Regions from separate parts of the Homo sapiens genome. Here region 2 is linked to region 1. Evidence: fine-mapped expression QTL. A gene starts in region 1. The other region holds a variant in brackets. All regions are shown on one strand. Distances are from middle to middle.

Region 1 (2,920 bases):
AAAACTATAAAAACCCTGGAAGACAACAAGGCAATACCATTATAGACATAGAAACTGACAAGTATTTCATAATAAAGACACCAAAAACAACAGCAACAAAAGTAAAAATTGATTAATGAGATCTAATTATACTAAAGAGCTTCTGCACAGCAAAAGAAACTATCAACAGAGTAAACTGACAACCTACAAAATGGGAGAAAATATTTGCAAACAATGTATCTGACAAAGATCTAATATCCAGCATCTATAAGGAACTTAAACAAATTTACAGGGGAAAAACAACCCCATTAAAAAGTGAGCAATAGCCATGAACAATCACTTTTCAAAAGAAAACATATATGTGGTCAAAAAACCTGTATCAAGCTCAGTATCACAGATCATTACAGAAATGAAAATCAAAACCACAATGAGATACTATTGTGTCCAGAATTGGTGGGTTCTTGGTCTCACTGACTTCAAGAATGAAGCCTCGGACCCTCGCGGTGAGTGTTACAGCTCTTAAGGTGGCGCGCGTCTGGAGTTTGTTCCTTCTGATGTTCGGATGTGTTCAGTTTCTTCCTTCTGGTGGGTTCGTGGTCTCGCTAGCTCAGGAGTGAAGCTGCAGACCTTCGCGGTGAGTGTTACAACTCATAAAAGCAGTGTGGACCCAAAGAGTGAGCAGTAGCAAGATTTATTGCAAAGAGCGAAAGAACAAAGCCTCCACAGTGTGGAAGGGGTCCCGAGCGGGTTGCCACTGCTGGTTCAGGCAGCCTGCTTTTATTCTCTTATCTGGCCCCACCCACATCCTGCTGATTGGTAGAGCCCAGTGGTCTGTTTTGACAGGGCGCTGACTGGTGCGTTTACAATCCCTGAGCTAGACACAAAGGTTCTCCACGTCCCCACTAGATTAGCTAGATACAGAGTGTCCATTGGTGCATTCACAAACTCTGAGCTAGACACAGGGTGCAGACTGGTGTGTTTACACACCTTGAGCTAGATACAGAGTGCCAATTGGTGTATTTACAATCCCTGAGCTAGACATTAAGGTTCTCCAAGACCCCACCAGAGTAGCTAGATACAGAGTGTCGATTGGTGCATTCACAAACCCTGAGCTAGATACAAGGTGCTGATTGGTGTATTTACAAACCTTGAGCTGGACATAAAGGTTCTCCATGTCCTCACCAGACTCAGGAGCCCAGCTGGCTTCACCCAGTGGATCCCTCACCGGGGCTGCAGGTGGAGCTGCCTGCCAGTCCCGCGCCGCGCGCCCGCACTCCTCAGCCCTTGGGTGGTCGATGGGACTGGGCGCCCTGGAGCAGGGGGCGGCGCTCATCCGGGAGGCTCGGGCAGCACAGGAGCCAACGGAGGGGGTGGGAGGCTCAGGCATGGCGGGCTGCAGGTCCCGAGCCCTGCCCTGAGGGAAGGCAGCTAAGGCCCAGCGAGAAATCGAACGCAGCGCCGGTGGGCTGTCACTGCTGGGGTACCCAGTACACCCTCCACAGTCGCTGGCCCGGAGGGTGTACTCCTCATTGCTCGGCCGCGGCGGGGCCAGCCGGCTGCTCCGAGTGCAGGGCCCGCCAAGCCCACGCCCACCCGGAACTCCAGCTGGCCGCAAGCGCCGCGCGCAGCGCCGGAAGCGCCGCGCGCAGCCCCGGTTCCCGCTGTCGCCTTTCCCTCCACACCTCCCTGCAAGCTGAGGGAGCCGGCTCCGGCCTTGGCCAGCCCAGAAAGGGGCTGCCACAGTGCAGCGGTGGGCTGAACGGCTCCTCAAGTGCCGCCAAAGTGAGAACCCAGGCAGAGGAGGCGCCGAGAGCGAGCGAGGGCTGTGAGGACTGCCAGCACGTTGTCACCTCTCAATATCTTTGATGAGTTCCAAAATTTTTAAATATTAAATATTTATAATACTTTAAGATTTATTTGAAAATGTTAATGAAACAAAGTGTAGAATCTGGATGCAATTCAAAAATGCCTCAAATATTTTATCTCACACCACATATGACATTAGTAAAATTATATTCATGACCTATACATCTTAAAAAACATTGAAACTTGCTTAGTTATAATTTAGCAAAAAAAAATTTTTTTAAAAACCTGTGAGATGGGCATTTAGCAAAAAAAAAAAATCTTGCTTAATTAATTTTGACCCCTTCTAAAAGTTCTTCTCACTCGTTTATCACTTATAATTTATATCTAAATAGTTAAATAATATATTTCATTTATAAATTGGAGAGATAATTATCTTAGCAAATTTCTTTAATTACACAATTGTATTTATCTTCAGTCATTGAGAGTTATGTAAGACTTAACTTCATATATTAGAGAAAAAAAGGAGTATTTACATCTTAAATTGTACAATATAACTTCTTTTTTTACCCATGTGATGTAGTTATGTTGATTAATACATTTGGTTGTAATTCCACATATTGTAAGTAACATTACATTTTTAGTAAGCCATTTCTTGCTGTGTAATCAACACTAATTCACTCTGGCTTCTAACGCTTATGCCCATATTTCCATGTTTGAAGGGTGACTATTGCTCTACTAGACTCATATATGATTGTCTTGACTTAATGTTAAGCTGCAAATTACATGCAAATCTCCTCCATATATTTCCTAACTCTCTTTAAATCATTGGTTACTATTCAGCTCCTCAAATCACTGTCTTTTGATGGCAGATCCAAAACAGCAAAAAGACAGGCCAACTTCCTGAATCATAGGTATAGCCTTTGCTTATATCTCACTTTACTCTCTTTTGACCACCGTAAGCCAGAGAGCAAATCCCAAATTTATGGAGCCAGAAAGGAGTGAATGTTTGTTGAGAAGTATCTCATTTTGTATCATACATATTATCTTCGCTGGGTCTGTTTCTTAGTATTAATGTGTACATGCATGTACACACACAACTATTATTACACTTAAAATTTACATAAACAGTTAAATT
Region 2 (2,920 bases), 920 kb before region 1:
AGTTAAATCCCAAAACAGATAAAAGTCCAAAATTAATTTCTTTTGCACATGTGAGTCACCATTCCAAAAAAGGGAAAATCTACAATCCATCCTTCCCACCTTCATGTTTTGCTGGATTTCAGGTCTAGGAGTTCTCCAATACATGGACAAAATTTGGCTTCTTCAACATCAGTGCATGGGGCTTTCACAGAATTATGAATATTTCCGTCAGGGCCTCAGAAAGTATTTTCTTTCTATGTCAGTTTCTGATGTACCTCACTTTTAATGCACCAAAAAAATCAGTCGGTCACAAAATGAGCATTACTACCCTTCACATCTAGCAAGCCACTGAATGTATAGTACCTAATCCAATGATCACAGTCATAATTATGTTGCCAGAAGGTAGCACTTTATATTGCCTTAGGCTTCAGAATAAAATAACCTGAATCTCAGGGGATAAGGGAAAAACAAGAAAATCTTGGTTTTGGTTTATGAAGTTAGAAGTCTATGGAAACACATTGTCTTATATTCACGTTCTGTGGATTTTAAATTCAGTTAGGAGAAATTCCTAGGAAAAAAATAACATTTGTATGATACGTACATACACACTACCTCTGGAAATCATTTCATCTATCCTTAATAATTGCCATTCCTCTTTCAGCCCTATTTTTAACATGCCAGTGCTGAACTGATTGTGAATTCTATAAAGTGACATATCATCCCTTCTATTTTTGAGTAGGATTTAGTCCTGTGCAGCAACCAAATTCTTCAGGACTAAGAAACCTGTCTCCTGGGAAAATCCCCTCTGCCATTTACAGCTAACCATTCAACAGTTACCTTCAGACCATGAGAGATGACATTTCAGCACATGTCGAAACCACCAGAGGACTCAAGGTCAGTCAGTGCCTTTATTTTCCTGCATGGAGAGTCCCTGAATGGGGAACACAGCTCATGACTAGATCTTCTTAGCTAGCCTAACACTAAGATTAACAGCTGGAACTTCAGCAACGTACATGATTACATGCAGAATTCTGCCAACTTGCACTTGAAAAGCAGTTAATATTTTTCAGCCTCCTGACCCCGCTTCTAATGCACATAAGGCTCTCTTTCCTTTAGAGTTACAAGCCTGTCTATGACATGCATGCTTCAGAAAAGTTATGCTTTCTTGCTGAGCTGCAGCAACCTACATTTTGAAGCTGGTCACAACTATAAAAAACCAAACAAAAGAAAACAACACAAAACCAAAAAACCCAGCAACTTCTCCAGATCCATGACTTTGCTTGACCATATCTATTA[C/T]GAACCAGAAATGAGTGAGGCCACCAATATGGACCCTGAGATCTAATTCCTTCCATAAATTAGCCTGACAATTATAATCTCAACGGCTTGCTACTGTCAGTTGAGGTTGCTTATGTTCTTGTGTTGCTGCTTATGTGCTCTCTTGTGGCCTTTGCAGAGGTCCAGGCTGCCTATGTCTTGTCTTAGATCCTTACCCTCTTGCTATACTTTGAATGTATTTTTCTAAAATTCATTTTGAAGCCTAATTCCCATTGTGGTTTTATTGAGAGTTGAGGCTTTTGGGAGGTGATTAAGTCATGAGGGCAGAGCCCTCATGAGTGGGATTAGTGCCTTTATAAAAGAACTTGAAAGAACCTATCCTTTTTTTTCTACCACGTGAGAAGACAACATGAAAAGGCAGGCCATCTCTGAAGCAGAGAGCAGCCCATAGTAGACACCAAATCCACTGGTGCCTTGATCTTGGACTTCGTAGCCTCCAAAACTGTGAACAATAAATTTCTGTTGTTTATAAGTTGGCAGTTTAAGGTATTGTGTTATGGCAGTCCAAATGAACTAAGATATTGCTGAAGAAAAAGTTATTATTTTATGGACAGAGCCACCATTAACTGCAGCCCTTCAAAGTCAAAATAGCCTATGTGTGGCTTAAAACCTCAATCACAGTCCACAGACATAAAAAAACTAAACCCAGATTCATCTAATTGTACACTTAAAAAAGTAAGTTTTATTTTATGTAAATAACATCTTAATTTTTTTAAATGATGTAGCAAAGCAAACAAGGAGAAATGTATAGAAACAGAAGGCAGATCAATGGTTTCTAGAGACTGAGAGCTGGAGAAAAGAATTAACTATAAAGGGATATGAGAGGACTATTAGGGTGATGGAAATATTATACATCTTGATTAAATTTGCACCTAGGAAATTGCAGATTTTAAAGGGTTCAAGAAACTCTCGATTTAAAAATGAATTTTACTGTATATAAGTTATACATCAATAAACCTGATTTTAAAATAATTTCTTAAAAGCTGAACCACCCCAAGTGTTTGCTAACTCTGAGATCAAAAGAATTTCTGGATACACTAAAGTCTAGGCCCCCACAACACACAACTTGGAACAATGAAAACCTCTCCATGGCAATTTTTGCTCTCCAAAATTCCACTCAATTGTTTTGTTTATCAGTTTCCCCAGTATTTGTACAAAAGGTTAGCATAAAAGGATCTGAATAAACAGAACCTCAATTTTCTAAACTATTTTTAAATAATTTAACAAATAGTGCAAAGCAGTGGCTGCTGAACACTTTTATTAATATGAATTAATAAGAAGATTTAATTTCATTACTAACACTAAAACCCAGAATAAGACAGATTTTTTTGATAATATGTGTGGTTTGAAATTTTTGTGAAAAACTGTGTTTTACACTTCTGTTCACTTTCTTTAGCCATCAGTATAGTTGTCTTTAAAGGTGAGCCTTTTTCTTTTTTTTCTTTTTTTGCTAGACTCCTTACCTTCCTTGAGCTTCTTTCAAATTCTCTGCAACTTTTTCTACCACGTTAGGCTCAGTAATGTGTTTTTATTCCCGCTCACTTCAAGAATCCCTGTCCATTGATTGTGCCTTTTCGTACCCTAGTACTTTATCTTATGACCTGAT

Alleles and levels. Positions count from the first base shown, and alleles are read on the strand shown. Sizes are in standard deviations (SD) of each study's normalised expression.
With allele C in place of T in region 2, the expression in prostate of the gene that starts at base 1,582 in region 1 is lower (moderate effect, 0.52 SD a copy in GTEx).

Evidence for each region. PIP is the estimated chance that this variant, and not a neighbour inherited with it, causes the effect.
Region 2: its variant is fine-mapped to the expression of LINC02899 in prostate (GTEx, PIP above 0.99).

What each region holds. Positions count from the first base shown.
Region 1 is chr5:23,950,010-23,952,929 of GRCh38, reverse strand. It overlaps LINC02899 (long intergenic non-protein coding RNA 2899), which reads right to left and starts at 1,582. Exons shown (of 5, transcript NR_131245.1): 1 at 1,127-1,582. RefSeq lists an enhancer at 873-1,372.
Region 2 is chr5:24,866,377-24,869,296 of GRCh38, reverse strand. No RefSeq gene overlaps it. Among named protein-coding and RNA genes, the nearest start is that of LINC02239, 27 kb to the right of the region's middle. The variant C/T (reference allele first, on the strand shown) is at 1,276.